3 separate regions of the Homo sapiens genome follow, and all the other regions are linked to region 2. Evidence: fine-mapped expression QTL. A gene starts in region 2. Each other region holds a variant in brackets. All regions are shown on one strand. Distances are between the middles of the regions. Region 1 overlaps MAN2B2 (mannosidase alpha class 2B member 2). Region 2 holds the start of MAN2B2 (mannosidase alpha class 2B member 2). Region 3 holds the start of S100P (S100 calcium binding protein P).

The links.
Region 1: its variant is fine-mapped to the expression of MAN2B2 in whole blood (TOPMed, PIP above 0.99).
Region 3: its variant is fine-mapped to the expression of MAN2B2 in whole blood (TOPMed, PIP above 0.99).

Annotation. Positions count from the first base shown.
Region 1 is chr4:6,615,136-6,621,975 of GRCh38, forward strand. MAN2B2 (mannosidase alpha class 2B member 2) reads left to right here. Exons shown (of 19, transcript NM_015274.3): 17 at 2,245-2,357; 18 at 4,792-4,909; 19 at 6,053-6,840. The coding sequence ends at 6,150. Among named protein-coding and RNA genes, the nearest start is that of MRFAP1, 22 kb to the right of the region's middle. The variant G/A (reference allele first, on the strand shown) is at 2,342.
Region 2 is chr4:6,573,312-6,578,311 of GRCh38, forward strand. It overlaps MAN2B2 (mannosidase alpha class 2B member 2), which reads left to right and starts at 1,878. Exons shown (of 19, transcript NM_015274.3): 1 at 1,878-2,037; 2 at 3,267-3,413. The coding sequence starts at 1,900. It overlaps LOC105374365 (a long non-coding RNA gene), which reads left to right. Exons shown (of 3, transcript XR_925098.3): 2 at 198-296; 3 at 880-1,027. RefSeq lists enhancers at 74-842, 843-1,610, 1,611-2,379 and a silencer at 1,668-2,127.
Region 3 is chr4:6,692,500-6,698,825 of GRCh38, forward strand. It overlaps S100P (S100 calcium binding protein P), which reads left to right and starts at 1,379. Exons shown (of 2, transcript NM_005980.3): 1 at 1,379-1,571; 2 at 4,394-4,671. The coding sequence starts at 1,434. The coding sequence ends at 4,543. RefSeq lists enhancers at 63-600, 910-1,646, 1,647-2,382, 3,585-4,347. The variant T/C (reference allele first, on the strand shown) is at 3,447.

The sequences.
Region 1 (6,840 bases), 43 kb after region 2:
CTGGAATCCCAGCACTTAGGGGATCCGAGGCAGGCGGATTGCTTGAGCCCAGGAGTTCAAGACCAGCCTGGGCAGCATAGGAAGATCCTGTGTCTATAAAAATAAAAATAGAAAAGTTCTCTGGTCATGGTGGCGTGTGCCTGAGCCTGCTTTCCCAGGCACCTGCAGCCGCCTTGTGAAATGGGATCCCTCACCATTCCTGCTGTGTGGGACACAGGAGGCCTTCCCTGACTTTGGAGCTGGAACTCCTCACCACCACACCAGGAGATGTAGAAGCACTTTCACAAACCTCTTGGCTTTTGTGATCTTGGGCAGTCATTCCCCTGTGCCATTCTGAAAACCAGCTACCCCATAGCCCCATGATAGCTTCTTAAAAATGGGCCAGGCAAGGTGGCTCACATCTGTAATGCCAGCACTTTGGGAGGCCGAGGTAGCAGGATCACTTCAGGCCAGGAGTTCGAGACCAGCCTGGGCAACATAGCTAGACTCTGTCTCTACAAAAAAAAATTAAAAAATTAGGCGGGTGTGGTGATGCTTGCCTGTGGTCCCAGCTACTCAGGAGGCTGAGGTGAAAGGATCACTTGAGGCCAGGAGTTCAAGGCTGCAGTGAGCTGTAATCATGCTACAGCACTCCAGCCTGGGCAACAGAGCAAGACCCTGTCTCTAAAAAAATTTTTTTTTTCTTTGAGACAGAGTCTCAATCTGTTGCCCAGGCTGGAGTGCAGTGGTGTGATCTTGGCTCACTGCAACCTCCACCACCCAGGTTCAAGCAATTCTCCTACCTCAGCCTCCCGAGTAGCTGGGATTACAGGTGCCCACCACCATGCCCAGCTAATTTTTGTATTTTTAATAGAGACAGGGTTTCACTGTGCTGACCAGGCTGGTCTCAAACTCCTGACAGCAGGCAATCCGCCCTCCTTGGCCTCCCAAAGTGCTGCGATTACAGGTGTGAGCCACCACACCCTGCCAAAATTTTTTTTTTAATACTGATGCCTCAATTCTAATCCCAGACAGATTGATTTAGTCAGCTTTGAGGCATAGCTGCAGAGCTGAGGTTCTACCAGCCAGGGTTTAGGAAGCACCTGTGTTAACCAGGTCCTCTCTCCAGGACCTTGAACTCAGTGCTTTCCTCTGAGCCTCGGTCTTCCCATCTGTAAAACGGGAGCAATGGCAATGAGCCTTTCTGAGTGGGAAGATCAGGGATGGGACAGGAGATCACATACATCATGTGGCAAATGACAGCATTATATCAGTCAGGGTGGCTGGCGTATGCTGCAGTAACAAAGAGCCCCGAATGCCCACGGTCTTAACAGTATATATTCATTTCTCCCCCATGCTGTGCATCCAGTGGGGTTAGCAGGAAGGTTTTTCTTGCTGTGGCCACCACGCCCCCCGCTGATGGAGTTTGTATTGCAGCACGTGCTTCCTCACTCACCATGGCAAGAAAAAGCTTCTGCCGGGAAGTACTGCGTCACTTCAGCTCACTTTGCATTGGCCACAGAGGCCACGCAGCCTCCCCTGACTTCAAAGGGGGCAGGGTAGGAGAGACTGGAGTATTTGAGGACATGCCCCAATATGCCCACAACAGTGGACGAGGATGGAAACATTGCAGCTGGTGTCATGGTGGGCAGCCTTACAGTCGGCCAGACCTGGGTGGGAATCCTCCCTCTGCCGCGCACCAGCTGTATGCCTTGGGCACGTGACTGCCCCTCTCTGAGCCTTGGTTTCCTTGTCGAGTGGGGGCCATGTCAGCTGTCTCACATGGAGTCTATTAGTCTGTTCTCATGCTGCTCATAAAGACATACCCGAGACTGGGTAGTTTATGAAGAAAAAAGGTTTAATGGACTCACAGTTCCACCTGGATAGGGAGGCCTCACAATCATGGCAGAAGGCAAATGAGGAGCAAAGTCACGTCTTACATGGTGGCAGGCAAGAGAGCGTGTGCAGGGGAACTGCCCTTTACAAAATCATCAGGTCTCATGAGACTTATTCACTATCACAAGAACAGCACAGGAAAGACTCACCCCCATGATTCAATTACCTCCCACCAGGTCCCTCCCACAACATGTGGACATTATGGGAGCTACAATTCACGATGAGATTTGGTTGGGGACACAGCCAAACCATATCGAGGAGGTTACAGATAGGAAATGGAGCTGAGTGTGTAAAGCAGCGGGTATAGACCAGGGACATTGGGGTTGGTTGATGAGGGTCTTCACTGCCACCTTCCTTCTGTCCCCAAAGGCCATCGAGGGGAAGCCCAGGCTGACCTCCGCCGTGTCCTGCTGCGGCTCTACCACCTATATGAAGTGGGCGAGGACCCAGTCCTGTCTCAGCCAGT[G/A]ACAGTGAATCTGGAGGTGAACTTCCCCACCCCCATCCAGACCATAAGCCAGGGAAGCAAACCCTAGATGAAGCCCCAAGAAACTGCCTTGGCAAAGAGATCCACGAGGGCTTCCTCCCAAATGGACGCTGGTATGGGCCCCACCCCGCCCTTCTTCATGGTCTTCTGGGTTTGTCAGGTATTACAACTGGCCTGGTTTTTTAGGGTTTTTTGTGTATATGTGAGACAGGATCTCACTCTGTTGCCCAGTCTGGGGTGCAGTGGCACAATCTCAGCTCACTGCAACCTCTGCCTCCCTGGCTCAAGTGATCCTCCCACCTCAACCTCCCAAGTAACTGGGATCACAGGGGCGCGCCACCACGATGGCTAAGTTTTTTTTTTTTTTTTTGAGACCGAGTTTCGCTCTCGTCCCCCAGGCTGGAGTGCAATGGTGCGCTCTCAGCTGGCTGCAACCTCCATCTCCCAGGTTCAAGTGATTCTCCTGCCTCAGCCTCCCGAGTAGCTGGGATTACAGGCATGTGCCACCACGCCCGGCTAATTTTTTTGTACTTTTAGTAGAGACAGGGTTTCTCCATGTTGGTCAGGCTGGTCACGAACCCCTGACTTCAGGTGATCCACCTGCCTCGGCCTCGCAAAGTGCTGGGATTACAGGCGTGAGCCACCAAGCCTGGCCTAGTTTTTTTATTTTTAGTAGAGACACGGTCTTGCTGTGTTGCTCAGGCTGGTCTCGAACGTCTGGCCTCAAGCAATCTGCCTGTCTTAGCCTCCTGAAGTGCTGGGATTACAGGCGTGAGTGGCCTGTATTTTCTTTCTTATTTATTCTGTGGTAAAACTTTTAAAACACAGACAACATCTGTGTAATCCAAAAACAAAACAGATTCCCCATAGAGTTGCTTTGAAAGGTGACTTAGAGTCAGACAATCCAGGGTCCACACCCAGGCCCCTCTACGGGGGCATCTCCGGCACCCCATGCCTCTGGGCCTCAGTTTCCCCCCATGTAAAATGGGGAGAGGTGAGAGTTCTTTGCCCAGAAGGTTGCTGAGAGGCCCTGGCACTAAGGGGCCTCGTGCAGTGTCAGGGCCCCCAGGCCTCGTCCCCTTCCAGGTTCCCCTCTTGGCTGATGTTGCCCTCTCAGCTCTACTATCAGGCGAGGCTTCCGCCACCTGGCCTGCCCACGCTCCCTCCCCAGAAGGCATGACCTGAGCCGCCTCATTTCTTTCCCAGTTTGCATTCTTTCTATTTCATTTCCTGCTCATGGAGAATTTCTGTGAATCTCTGTGTTTCTGCCTTGGGCCTCCTTCGACATCTGAGTCTTCAGGGGAATCCAGAGAAGCCCCAGTACCTTTTCGCCATGATGTCTTACTGGGCCACCCACCTCCTCTTTCATGATCCTCGCCACGGAGGATCCTTTCCTCACGGTCCCTGGCCTGCCTGAGAGCAGGTCTAGGCCATGGCGGGTACCAGTGCCCAGCACAGGGCCAGCCTGCCCTGGGAAGCAAGGAGGCCAGCGTGGGACCTGGAAGTTGGTCATCTGATGCTCCCCCGTTTCACAGATGGAAGCACCAAGGCCCTGAGACAAGGAGACGGTTGGGATGGACACCATGACTCCCTGCCCAACGTGGACGGTGGTGGGGTGGAAAGACCATTGAGTTAGGAACGCAGTGAGTTTGGCTGCAAGTCACAAAACACCTAACAGATGTGCTTAGAACAGAGGACAGAGTGTTTTCTCACCGAACAGGCATGTCCGATGGACCCCAAGCGCTGTCACCGTGGGCCCGATCACTGTCATCTTCCCGCCATCGCCGGCAGACTGGCTTTTGTCTTTTGCCGTCTGCTTGTTTGCGGTCACAAGATGGCACAGGCCTCCCTCATGAGCAAATTTCAAGGCAGGGTAGGGCTCAGCAGTAGTGGCCAGAAAGGCCTTGCCCTAGCGTGGCTCTCTCCCTCCGTCAGCACACAGAAGCTTCTCCAAGAGCCACCCCCAGCCCTCCTGCTCCACAGACTTTTCCAGACCCCTAAGGGCCTCCTGCCTCCCCTAGGTGTAAGGGAGGCTGGGACAAGGCCTATTGGGAAAGGGGGATGGGGTAACTGTGGCTGGCTTCCTCCCTGGACTGGGCACGGGGCCACCTGAGCAATGTGGGGAGAGGAGAACTCCGCGGTGGGGTGGGCAGCTCAAAATGCCACACCTCCCGGGCTGCTCCTCCAGCTCGGCCACCTGGTAAAGCATGCACCTCCCGCTTCAGTGTCCTCATCTGTAAAGTACACGGCCAGTCCTGTCCTCGCAGATGTGCTGTGAGAAGCAGATGAGGGAGCTGTGTCAGGCACCAGGGGAGGACCTGGGCTCCTGAGGACACCGAGTTCGTGGTGTGTCTGCCCTGCTGCTGTCTTGGTTCTCTGCTCAGCTCTGGAACTTGGTGCAGCTCACTCTCCCTCTGCTCCTCTCCCTGCAGGCTGTGCTGCAGGCGCTGGGGTCCGTGGTGGCAGTGGAGGAGCGCTCGCTCACAGGGACCTGGGATTTGAGCATGCTGCACCGCTGGAGCTGGAGGACGGGGCCTGGCCGCCACAGAGGTTTGGGGACCCCCGCTTCAGCTCCCTACCCAGGACTCCCAGCCAGGCTCAGCAGCTGGTCAGACCCGGTGCACATCCAACCATCTGCCTGTCCCGGCCTGTGCGACCTTGCGAGGCTGCTTTCCTACTCTGAACCCGCAGCCCTCCCAAATCTACTACAGTCGGTTAAGAAAGGCTTTGGGTTAGTCTCTGCCTGCCAGGGCTCCACACAGGCGTGTGTGTGCACTTGTACGTGTGCACACGCAGACCACACGCCCTGCCTGTGCCCTGGGTGACAGCTAGGGGCCCAGGGGCTTCTGCCCACCTTGGCCCTGCTGACCTCAGCCCATCAGCCGGTCCCTGCCTCATACGACATGTGCCACCGTGAGCTCCTGCACTACAGGCAGCTTCCAGGCTCCACTCCCTGTCCGCACCATGCCCTCTGCCTGGGACGCACAGGTCCCATTCACTCTGGCCAGCACCTGCTCAAGCTCCCCAGGATGCCTCCCCAGAGTCACCAACCAGGCCAAGTGCCTCCTCCACTCTCCTGGCCCCAGGGGTTTCTTCTGTCCTGTGCAGCTCGTTGTCCACTACACACAGCATGGTGGCGGGTGCATGGTGCACGCTCAGTTGGTGGTGGGAGGAAGGAAGGGACGGAGGGAGGGAGGGAGGGAAGATGATGTTGGTTGGAAAGAAGGAAGGAAGATGGATGAGTGATAGATAAGTGGACGGCTCCCTCCCAAGATCGAAGCCCAACCCCAGGGCATGCCTTCAGGGGAGCCTGGTGAGGCAAGGGCAGACTCACCAGATGGTCTCAGAAAGCTCTTGGGCTTTGAGGGCAACACCCATGAGGAATTGAGGCCACTAGGGCCAGGACCAACCTATGAATTGCCCTCAGGGTGGGCAGAAACGCCAAGAGGCCCACAGGAGTCCTGGCAGAAGGGGATGCCATAGGCCGTTGCCACGGTGGGAGCCACAGCAGACTGTAGCCAGGTGCAGTGTGGTGAGAAGGAGGCTGGGAGCCACAGCAGATTGTAGACAGGTGCAGGAGGGTGAGAGGGAGGCTGGGAGCCACAGCAGACTGTAGACAGGTGCAGGGGGTGAGAGGGAGGCTGGGAGGAGGCATCCCAGGCCACACTGGACAGATCACCTCTGTTCCCCTAGGTGACACCACCTCTCCCTCGAGGCCACCAGGAGGCCCCATCATCACCGTCCACCCAAAGGAAATCCGGACGTTCTTTATTCACTTTCAACAGCAGTGAGCCCTGGGCAGATGCCCCGGCCCCAGGGCTTCCCCCAGGAACTCCATGTAACAGAACAGACCCAGGACAGGGAAAAGCAGTGCGGAGGGATGGGACTGGGGAGTCAGCTGCTCATCTGCAGGCTAATGGCAGGAAATGGTCATATTTGGGGTTTTTCCCTAATTTTTTTAAACAAAAATTACATTACAAGATCCAGGTTCTTCCCCCCCACACTCAATCAAGCCAGCCCTCTCCTCTTCTGTCACGTAAAGGATATTTGGCACACTCATGCGTCATTCATTCACAAAACACAAACCCAGGACTTTCTGCCTAAGGCAGAGCACAAGACTCACAGCAGCACCGAAGCGCATCTGCCGTCCGGGCCCTGCCAGGCTTGCCAGGCTGCCAGTGGTAACTGTGGACCTACTGCGTGCCACGTGTTTTCATAGACTCATCCCATGCTGGCAACAGCCCTGCAAGGGGCTTGGCTCTGCCACAGGGCAGGAGAGGAAGTTGTAGCGCCTAGCGAGAGTTCCAGCCCCAGACGCCCACCTGTGCCTCAGGGCACCGCCTGCCGAGCAGAGAAGGCACAGCAGCCGTCAGAGTCCATGAGAGGTGAAACCACACAGCAGGGATGTCCAATATCAGAACTATTAATATCAATAAAAGTATAACCTTCCCAGGTCTATGCCCAAGAGAATTGAAAACATC
Region 2 (5,000 bases):
TGGCTTAGAATAAACGTTCTGAGATATTTTAGAGTGTGGCTTTTCTCGTCAACCAAATTCTACAAAGAGCTTGGGGGGTGGGTAATGTTGTGGAGCCCATCTTTGGCAGATACAGTCTGCCAAAGATTGTGACACTGCCTTATCGATAAACTCAGTGGCTTAACACAATTAAAGCTTATTTCTCCCTCTTGTCACAGCTCTTTGGGTTCCTCATGGTTCCATGTGGTTCTTCAGAGCCTCCATTGGTGGCTCTAACCTCCCTGAGGTCCTCGGAGTGCCCTCCACTGGAGCAGTGGGTGAGTAAGAGAGCAGGGCTCACCCACAGGAGGTTGTTAGGGGCCAGCCTGGAAGAGGAGCACAGTGCCCGCCCCCACCCATCCCATTGACTAGCACTTAGCCACGTGGCCGCACCTGGTTGCAGAGGCTGGAGAGTGGAGCCCAGCTGTGAGCCTGGCCGGTCATGGGGACATGTGTTAGTGAGTACTGTCCACGTCAGGCTCAGACCATCTGACCTGAGGCTATGGGGATGCAGGGGTCCCCAGGGGGTGGACAGGACAGAAGGAGGAGGGAGACCTGCTTGGAGAACCTGTTCTCAGTTTCCATTTGTTACATAATGGACAAGAGGACCAGCACTTTTGCTCAGAGCTGCAGCTCTGGTTCCGCTAGGAAATGCCAGGCAGGGGCACAGCCAAGTGGTTCTCAGACAGTAAACCCCAAGCCACAGACCCTTGCTTTCTTGGGCAGGGAGTAGTGGACAGGGCTGACTCCAGGCAACAGTCCCAAACAGGCTGCACCAATGTGACCGCACCTCCCCTGAGTGCAGGCAAGGGGTGCTGTGCTCACGCTCTCAGCCTGGGTGCATCCTTACTTTGTTCACAGCTCCTCTATCGGACCCATTTCACTGAGGCTCAGCGAGGTTACCTATGTCGCCCCAGGTCACCATCCAGTAACCCAGAAAGCTTCTCTTGGCTCCTCCACTAACTGCGTGATCTTGGACAAGTCAGTTACTGTCTCTGAAAGCCAGTTCTCCTCCTTAAAATGGAGACAGTTGAGCCAGGCATGCTGGTTTATGCCTGTAATCCCAGCACTTTGAGAGGCGGAGGCAGGAGGATCGCTTGAGCTCAGGAGTTTGGGACCAGCCTGGGCAACATAGTGAGGCCCCCATCTCTATAAATTTTTTTTTTAATTAGCTGGGTGTGGCAGTGTGCCCCTGTGGTCCCAGCTACTCAGGAGGCTGAGGTGGGAGGATCACTTGGGCCCGGGAGGTCAAGGCTGCAGTGAGCCCTGATCGCGCCACTGCACTCCGGCCTGGGAGACAGAGTGAGATCCTGTCCAAAAAAAAAAAAAGGAGACAGTCCCATAACAAGCCCCCCATGGCGCCGCCCAGATGGGGTTTCGACGCCAGGGAGAGGAGGGAAAGGGTTATCAGGGAAGGTTCCTGGTGGCAGAGCTCACAGGGTCCGTGCTGAGCCGAATTTTGCACGGTAGCCTCAGAGTCCCGGAGCCGAGTCCAGAGGGCGGGATGCAGGTATTGCGAAGAGGCACACGCTCCGAGAGGAACCACCAGAGCGTGGGCTTTGGGCGAGGAGGGGTCTCCTCTGGTTGGGGGAGATCTGGCAGGCTTGGGGGAGATGGGGCTGAAAGGATGGACAGGGAGGGAAGGCCAGAAAGCTGGAGACGGGGATGGAGAGCTAAACCGCAAAGAGCAGGCGCCCTGCCCCGCTGAGGGCCCCGCGCCTCCAGCTCCTCCTTCCCGAGCTTCCCGGGGTCGGCGTCCAGCCGGCAACCAATGGGCCCCGCCCCCGCCCGCAGCCAATGGGCCGCGTCCCCGCCCGCGCGGCCGCCCCGCCCCTCGCGGACCCGGAAGTGGGCCTGGCACCTTCCCGGCCTGCCGCAGGGATGGGGCAGCTGTGCTGGCTGCCGCTGCTGGCACCGCTCCTGTTGCTGCGACCGCCAGGGGTCCAGTCCGCCGGCCCCATCCGGGCCTTCGTGGTGCCCCACAGCCACATGGACGTGGGCTGGGTCTACACTGTGCAGGTAGGTGCCGACCACGCCCCGCGCGCCCCTGAGGCTGCAGCTTCCCTCTCCCCGCGGGATCTGAGTGTGGGTTTGCGTCCCGGGGCCCGATGCCGGCGCAGAAGGAGGCTCAGTGGGTTCAGGACCCCACGCTGCCATTGACTGGTTGCGTCGCTAACTTCGGGCCAGTCACTTCCTGCCTCTGAACCCCCATTTCCCCTTCTGGAGGGTGGTGCAGATTGGAGGGACCCCTGCATTCCCGGCTGGGGAGGGGCTTGGGGGTTGACAGTGGTAACCCATTTTCCAGGGAAGCCTGGAGCAGGAGAGGGTGGGGCTGGCTTCAGAGCAGGTGGATGTCAGGTGCCCGCTGGGAAGGGGCCGGGCTGGTCCCCTGCGGGGCTGAATATTGGAGGCCAGCTCAGCGTCCTCCGCCCCCCAGGACAGGGGTGAAGGTGGACCTGTGGTCACCTCCTGGTTCTGCTCAGGACCTTGGGCGAGGGGCTTTGGTCCCTAAGCCTCAGTTTCCCCATCTGTAAAGGGTAGGGGAAGCATGCCCACTACAGCCAGTTTCCAGAGGAGAAAACCGAGGCCCAGAGAGGGTTGCTGCCTTGCCCAAGGTCGCTCGGGAATAACCCTCATGCCTCCTGACTCCCTGCTCGGTGCTCCTTCCATTCATGTAAGCACTCTGTGGGCACCCTGTGTGCAGGGCCCTCGGGACTCGGATGGGAACACACTACAGCTGTGGTCCTTGGAGCTCCCAGCCTTGGGGAGGCAGACGCCTAGACGCCAGGGACAGCCTGGGGAGCTCTTCCTCTCAGCACCAGCTTTCCTCATTTCAGCCCCAGCAGGCCCCTTTGGGGTCACTGGACCACACCCCGACTGAGGCCTAAGACTTTCCTGTGCTGCCCCTCAATGGCACACTCAGGGCCCAGCCCCCCAAATTGCACACTCAAGGCCCAGCTTGCTCACCCCTCTGAGAAACTGTCCCTGACCCCTGGGCTGGGAGGGCACCTGTCTCTGCCCATGTAGGGTGTCTGTTTCCCCGTCCCTCTCCCCCAGGAGAGCACGATCCCATCCAGTGGGGAGAGCCTGGTATGGAGCGAGTGCCTAATAGCTGTGTGGGGGGTGAGCAGCAGGGAAGGAAGGGCAGAGCCCCCAACCCCATGCAGACACACCTGGCGAATGGCAGGGGCCCCAGGGACACTTGGTCTTGTTGGACCGGGGCTGGCATGATGCTGTCCCCTCCCCAGGAAAGCATGCGGGCGTACGCCGCCAATGTCTACACCTCAGTGGTGGAAGAGCTGGCCCGCGGCCAGCAGCGCCGGTTCATCGCTGTGGAGCAGGAGTTTTTCCGGCTGTGGTGGGATGGCGTCGCCTCGGACCAGCAGAAATACCAGGTAATGAGGTCACCAGGTGACACAGTTGGCCCAGTATCCTGGCAAAGACCCAGGTGGAAAACTCAATGGGGCAGTTCTAGCCAGGGCCAGGGCCAGGCTGGCATAAACCACAGGGCCAAAACCCCACCGGGCTATTCACAGCCTTGTTTAGATCAAGGTTCACGGTGAGTTCCATGCCTGGGAGAGATTGCTTTCAATTTAATCCTGAATTTCTGTCTATTCTTGAAAAAACTGCCAGCTCTGGCAACCCAGCTGTGCACTTCCGTGCCAGCTGGCACTAAGTCAGCAGTGCCCCCTGACACCAGGCATCCCAGGTGTCCCCAAGCCCTCACCCTCTTCTCTCATTTGTGTTATCTGCCTGGCCCCCGGGCCCAGGGTCTGGTGACCCTTGATGAGGGTGCGATAGTCCCTGTGGTTTGAGGGTAGGCAGCAGGTTGCTTCATACAGCATGGAGAGTCAGAGTCCCCGCTGCACAGTGAGGCAGCCTGGGTCCCATCCTGCTCCCGCACCAGGGGACACGACTAGCCCCTGCGAGCCACAGATTCCACTTCTATTAAACGGGGGTGACCGCCCCATTGCAGAAAAGTCATGCCAAGAATGAAGCCCTGGCGTGAGCACCCAGGACGATACTCGGGGGTTCTTAGTTTCCTCCCAGGTATCCACCTGCCTTCAGAATAGTTGCTGAACATAAAGTTCAGGGACGCCAAGTGACTTGCTCAAGGGAGTGAAGCGGAGAAGGGAGAGCAGGGCGTCCACCAGGCCCCGCCAGAGTCACGGGAAGGAGCCGGACATCCAATGGCCACTTGATGCTGCCAGATAGTGGGGTTCTTACCTCAAGTTAAAGAGACATTCCAGGTTCAGAGAGGGCACGCCACTGGCCTGCAGTCACACAGCTTGTAAGCGGCAGGTGGGATTCTGAGCCAGGCATGCCTGACTCGAGGCAGGCCTTTCCAGGATATCCTGTGAGCGTCCCATGCTTCTTCAGGTGGACCCCACCAAACCCAGTGGTCTGTCTCCTAGCCCTCAAAGAGAAGCATGGCCTGCATGGCCCAGTGAAGACCTGGACAGGAAACTTGTGGCAGAGCTCCCTGGAGGCAGGAATTGTTGCCTGCTTCATTCACTGCTGAACCCCCAGTGCCTGAACAGTGCTGGTTGTGTAGTAGGTGCTCACTTAACATTTGTTGAGTGAATGATCTACATATAGTGCACCTTAAGAAACAAACCAAAGGCACAGCCTATAAACAGCTGTGTGTACACATACTGAGGTGTGTAGTGTCTAGGGCAACAAAGGTGTTATGTGTGTAGAGACGGGGATGTTAAGCAAATAGGTTAAAAATGGTAGTGATGAGTGAACCTTGGGAAAGGATATGGGAGCTCTTTGTTCTATTCCTGAAACTTTTCTAAAGTTTAGAATTAGTTAATAAAATAAGATTTAAGAAAATCTTATATATACAAATATATATCTCAAATACCACCTGAGGGCTGCATGATTTCTAGGTGGTGGGAACACAGTGTGGACCAGGACAGACAGTGCCCTGCTTTTATAGAGTAAGCAAGGGTGGGGAGTTTTATGCAGGGCGTGTGTGG
Region 3 (6,326 bases), 120 kb after region 2:
GTGGGGAGAGTCTCGGCCCATGTGCTGGTGGAGGCTGTGTTGGGAGAGGTTAGGGAACTTGCTGGAGGCTGACACTCTGGAAGATCTCTGCTGAGAGAGAGGCCTTTGAGTGTGGGCCTACTTTGACCGGGGCAGGATGTGAACACAGGCCCCTACCTCCATGCTCTCCAGGACTCGCTCAGCCTCCCAAGCACAGACCCTCTGAGTACCTCCGCTATAGAGACGGGGAGGGGTGTGACTGTCCCTGACTCTGCCCAGAGTCCCAGGAGCCTTTGTGCCGTCTAAGCCCTGTGGGTGATTTGGGTTTGGTAAGTGCCGGGGCTCAAAAAACAACACCCCAACGTGGAAGCCTCAGAAACAAAAGTTTCTCTGTCCTGCTCCCACCCTCCTGTCTCCAGCTCCTCCTCCTCTGAGAGGCTTCCCCAAACCCTGCCATAAAACCCAGAAATATGACTCCAGTTCTCCACTCCCTCCCCTTTCTGTGTAGAAACCAGCCTAAAGAAACCCTCTGGCCTGCTTTATTTGACTGTAGGTCATAAGAGCTCCATTCCAGAAAGAGTCCTGCCCCACACCTAGAAGGAAGGAGAGCTGCTCAGAGAGGCCCCAGGGAATCTGACTCAACAGGCCCTACCAGGCTCTCCTCTTGGTCTGTGAGCATCCAGCCTTACTTTTGTATCCAATCATATTTCCATACTTCGCTGAACTGTGTTTATGGATAGTTTCCACCAGATCTTTGGATCTTCATCTTGAAGGCTGCCGTGCCACATAAGCTATGATCAAATACATCTGTTATGCTCTTCTCCTATTCATCTGCCTTCTGCCCGTTGATTTTCAGCAAACTCCCAGAGGATGAAGGGGAGTTTTCTGTTTGGCCCCACAGGGGAGGAGCGAGCGAGATTGACGTGGAAGCTGGGCCTCTGAAGGACACAGAGTGCTCTAAGAAAGGGACGATGGGGCAGATCCATGTTCACAAACACGCCCATGTGAATTCACTCTCAGATGTCTCCTCGTGTCAGCACGCTGGGTGCCAGCACGCTCTGATATTGACACAAAGGGCCACGGAGTCACCACTCACTCCACACACACTCACCCCGTGCCCACTTACCCAGGGAGGGCCAGGAATGAGGATGCCACTGTGGCTCAGTGATGGCGCCGAGACACAGGTGAACACTGTAAAATGTGGATGCCTGGAGGCAGCCCACACCCTGGGCCTTGGCTGGGGGAAAGGTTCCAGAAACGTCATCACAACGATGCATTTCATCAGAACTGAGCACATGAATGGGGAGGGGCAGGACTTCCTGAATGTCCCAACCCCACTGTCCCACCCTCTGTGTCAATATGAGGCTGCCTTATAAAGCACCAAGAGGCTGCCAGTGGGACATTTTCTCGGCCCTGCCAGCCCCCAGGAGGAAGGTGGGTCTGAATCTAGCACCATGACGGAACTAGAGACAGCCATGGGCATGATCATAGACGTCTTTTCCCGATATTCGGGCAGCGAGGGCAGCACGCAGACCCTGACCAAGGGGGAGCTCAAGGTGCTGATGGAGAAGGAGCTACCAGGCTTCCTGCAGGTGAGCCAGGCCGGCAGTGCTGGACTCAGCGGGGGCTGGGGAAGAAGGGGAAGGCGTGGCAGGCAGAGGGCTGAGAGCTGCGGTGGGGTCGGCGGTCAAGGGGCTCAGAGGCAAGAGGGACAGATCCTGAAATGCCCTGGAAGCCCAGCCAAGGAACGGACCCACCCTGGCATAAAGGCAGGGGAGGCGGGAGCATCTGAGCAGGGAGAGGGTGTGGTCAGCTTGATCCTTGAAACATGGGGTTGACCCCAGTGTATTTGTGACAGGCCTGGTGGGAGAGTGGGACTCAAACCTGTGCAGTGGGGGCAGGGGCGGAATGCAATCCAGGGCTGCCATTTGCAAGTTTGCCAAGCTTGCCAAGCCCTTGAGCCCTCGGGGCTGTCCTCCAAGGCTGCCGGCCATAAACGCCCCAGCTCTGCCTCCCACTTGCCCGCTTTCCCTGCTCCCATTCCCAGGCCCCTTGTTGCCTGGTATTAGTGGGTCTGGCAGGAAGGACGGGAGGAGGCTCCATCCTGGCACCTGTCTGCGCAGAGCTGTGGACCTCCCTTGGGCTCCCTGCCAGGGAGGAGCCACCGGCCTGAGCCTCACAGAAGGCCCCTCAGGGCGGCCAGGACCAGCTTCCTTCCGCCCGGGGCAGCCTCCGGCTGGGCTGAACAGAAGCCGTACCCTCTCCATTTCCCCTTCCCTTTGACCCCTGTCCTCTCCTTCTTTCTCACTCCCCCACTTTCTTCCTTCCTTCCCCTCCCCTTCGGGCCCCACCAGACTCTGCCTACCTGCTAAGGGGCTAACCCACATAGATGCTGATAATCAAAAATGAAAGCCTGAAATTTTCAGCCCTAGAATCACTTCAAAGACATGAAACACTTCAGAATATTGCTTCTATTTTCTTTTCTTTTCTTTTTTTTTTTTTTTGAGACAAGATGTCACTCTGTCACCCAGGCTGGAGTGCAGTGGCAGGATCACGGCTCACTGCAGCCTCGACCTCCCTGGGCTCAGGTGATCCTCCCACCTCAGCCTACCGAGTAGCTGGGACTACAGGTGCATGTCACCATACCCGGTTAATTTTTGTATTTTTTTTAGAGACAAGGTCTCACCATGTTGCCCAGGCTGGTCTCAAACTCCTGTGCTCAGGCAATGCGTCAGCCTCGACATCTCAAAGTGCTGTGATTACAGGCGTGAGCCCCGACACCTGGCCTAGTTCTATTTTCTAAATGTGAATTCTGTAAAGATATCTTTTAAAAATAAAGTTCTGTTTTTGGTAGAAAATGTAAAAATAGATAAATATGGAGGGAAGAAATCCCCCCTGGAATACAGACGCTTCCTCTCCCTTCCAGCCTTTTCCCCATATGAACATTGCTGTGAGTGAGATTTACATGCAATGTAATTTCTTTTTGAGCTTAACATTACAACATAAATTCTCAAACTCTGATGTTCATTAAACACCCCAGCCCCATCCTGGGAACTTGGGCTTGGGGCTCGGGGTGTTCTGATAATGATCAAAGTATGAGAATTGAACCCATGAGGACTTTGATCCAAGATACTGGGGTGTGGGGAGGGGCAGGCACAGGTGTCCTGGGAACACACTTTGAGAAGCAATGGCAAAGCTGGGGGTCCAGCTAATGTGTTACATTAGAATCACCTCGGGGAGGCCCTGGGTGCCCTTCTCAGCCCTCCCTCCGGAGGCTGCTGAAGCCCAGCAAAGCCGGAGTCAGAGAACAATGTCCGCCTGAGGGCAGGGCTGGGCTGGGCTGGCCTTCTGGCCCTATCTGCTCCGTGCCCAACCCAGCGCCCCGCACAGTCGGAGCTTTGTAAATACGAGGTGACTGTCTGCCTACAAACTTTGTAAACATCACTTGAAATGGCCGCAGGGTATTG[T/C]GACATGGCCATACCACTATTTGTTTGCTATTGAATTTGTACTTCCCTGCCTTACTTTTGCTATTGCAAACCATGCTGTCACTAAGGTCTTCATGCACACAGTTGTGTCTTGGTCAGATGATATGTTTCTACCAATTTTAATTGTGTTTCTTTCCACCTGGACACACAGCTCTCTGGCCCAGGGCTGGGTCATCAGCACACCCTGCTGCTGCTGTTCAGATCTGCATCCTGGTCCCGCTTGGTCCCACAGTGAGAACGCTTTGCTATCACATGGGCAGGCTCTGAGAGCCCTGCCGGCCTGGCCTTCTCAAAGAAGACCTGAGAGCTTGGGACCCAAGCAGAGAGGAAGAACAGGGCTCAGGGTGCTTGCTCCATGCTCGCTCCACACCTGGGGCTCAACCCTGGCTTTCCCCGGCTCCCTGTGTGACTTCAGGGCAGGTCCCTTGGGCCCTCTGGGCCTTATCATCTTCATCTGTAACAGGGCGATGCCTCTGCCGTGTCTGGTGGTGTTGAGGAGTTCCTGTTTGTGTAAGCAGCTAGTTCAGTGCCAGCACGAGATGGGAGGCCCATGAAGTTAGCAGTGCACAAAAAATAGAGCAAAGACTGGATGCATTTCCTGAGAACAACCATCACTGTAAAGCACTTTACAAATCCAAAGACAACCCCCGGCAAAAACTCAAAATGAAACTCCCTCTCGCAGAGCACAATTCCAATTCGCTCTAAAAACATTACAAGTTAGTTCATGTCATGCCAGATAGCTGAAGGCAGCTCACAAGTTCTTAAGGCCAGGAATGCCATGTGTCTGCTATGCACAGCTGGCCCTGGCCCTGACAGCAAAGGTGACGCAGATGTGGGTGCCCTGCTCCTGCCCAGCAGCAGTGCTTGGTGGAGGCTGAGGCCCTGCACAGGCACCCTCACTGCTGACCTTGAGCCTCTCTCTCCTCTAGAGTGGAAAAGACAAGGATGCCGTGGATAAATTGCTCAAGGACCTGGACGCCAATGGAGATGCCCAGGTGGACTTCAGTGAGTTCATAGTGTTCGTGGCTGCAATCACGTCTGCCTGTCACAAGTACTTTGAGAAGGCAGGACTCAAATGATGCCCTGGAGATGTCACAGATTCCTGGCAGAGCCATGGTCCCAGGCTTCCCAAAAGTGTTTGTTGGCAATTATTCCCCTAGGCTGAGCCTGCTCATGTACCTCTGATTAATAAATGCTTATGAAATGATCCTGGTCTCAGAGAAACTGGTTATTTCCTTAAAACCTCAGTGTCCTCTCCCCACAAAACAGAATTCACTAATTAAACTTGTCATTTCATTACTCATTGCCTGCCTGCAGTGGTGAGACAGATGAAGAAGACAAGGCAGTCGATAAAAATCCATTTGTTGGCCATCTTCTGAGTGCCCACTGAGACACAGTCCCACCTTTGGCCGTGTGAATGCCACCATGTCCTGGACCCAAGGGAGGCTCGGGTACACACATCCATGTATTTATTCATCTACTTCGTAATTCATTTAGTCGGTCACGTAGCCACTCATTGAACCTGGGCCCCTCCATCTCTCCAAACAGCATGTTTTCTTCAAGTAACATACTTCTAATATTTATTTATTTTTGAGACGGAGTCTCGCTCTTGTCACCCAGGCTGGAATGCAATGGCGCCATCTCAGCTCACTGCAACCTCCGCCTCTTGGGTTCAAGTGATTCTCCTGCCTCAGCCTCCCGAGTACCTGGGACTGCAGGCACCCGCAAAACCACACCTGGCTACTTTTTGTATTTTTAGTAGAGACGGGGTGTCACCATGTTGGCCAGGCTGGTCTCGAACTCCTGATTTCAGGTGATCTGCCCACCTCAACCTCCCAAAGTGCTGGGATTACAGGTGTGAGCCACTGCGCCTCGCAAAGTAACATATCTTTTTTTCTTTTTTTTTTTTTTTGAGACGGAGTCTCACTGTGTTGCCCAGGCTGGAGTGCAATGGTGCGATCTTGGCTCACTGCCAGCTCCGCCTCCCAGGTTCACGCCATTCTCCTGCCTCAACCTCCTGAGTAGCTGGGACTACAGGTGCCCACCACCACGCCCGGCTAATTTTTTGTATTTTTAGTAGAGACAGGGTTTCACCGTGTTAGCCAGGATGGTCTCGATCTCCTGAGCTCGTGATCCACCCACCTCGGCCTCCCAAAGTGCTGGGATTACAGGCTTCAGCCACCACGCCCAGACAGTAACATACTTTTAATGATGCAATGCTATTTTTGCCACAAAGACTATGAAACACCATAACAGAGAAACAATGAATTCCAAGAGAGCATTAGAATCATCAGTGAACAACTGCTCACATCACCTGTATTTAGTTTTACGACACTAATGTTGGGAGCACCCAAAAGGACTCAAGCGAGGTCTTGGATGATAGGTAGGTAACTGGATCTGGTTTTAGGACCCCTATCATTTTTTGGATACCCAGTATTTAAAGCCTCTTGCTATGTTTGAAGACATTTTCACTAGAGAAGATCTATCACCAAAAGATCCTGAACTTGGAGGTGGACACAACAATACGAGGCTTGGGTGGATCCCTCTTTGGGGAAGGGACTGCAGATTGCAAATATTTTTGCTAGAGAGAGAGTCGTGTTAGGTTAGATGGGAGCAGATACACACATTTAAATAAAGTAAAAACTAATAATGAGGGAGAAGTAAAGTTAATAATGGGGGAAACAAAAGGGGTGGACTGCCAGAATGGAAATCTTTGTTTCTTTTTTCCTTTGAGAGACGGCCTTGCCCTGTCACCCAGTCTGGAATGCAGTGGTGCTATCGTGGCTCACTGCAATCTTTTTTTTTTTTTTGAGACGGAGTCTTGCTCTGTCGGCCAGGCTGGAGTGCAGTGGTGTGATCTCA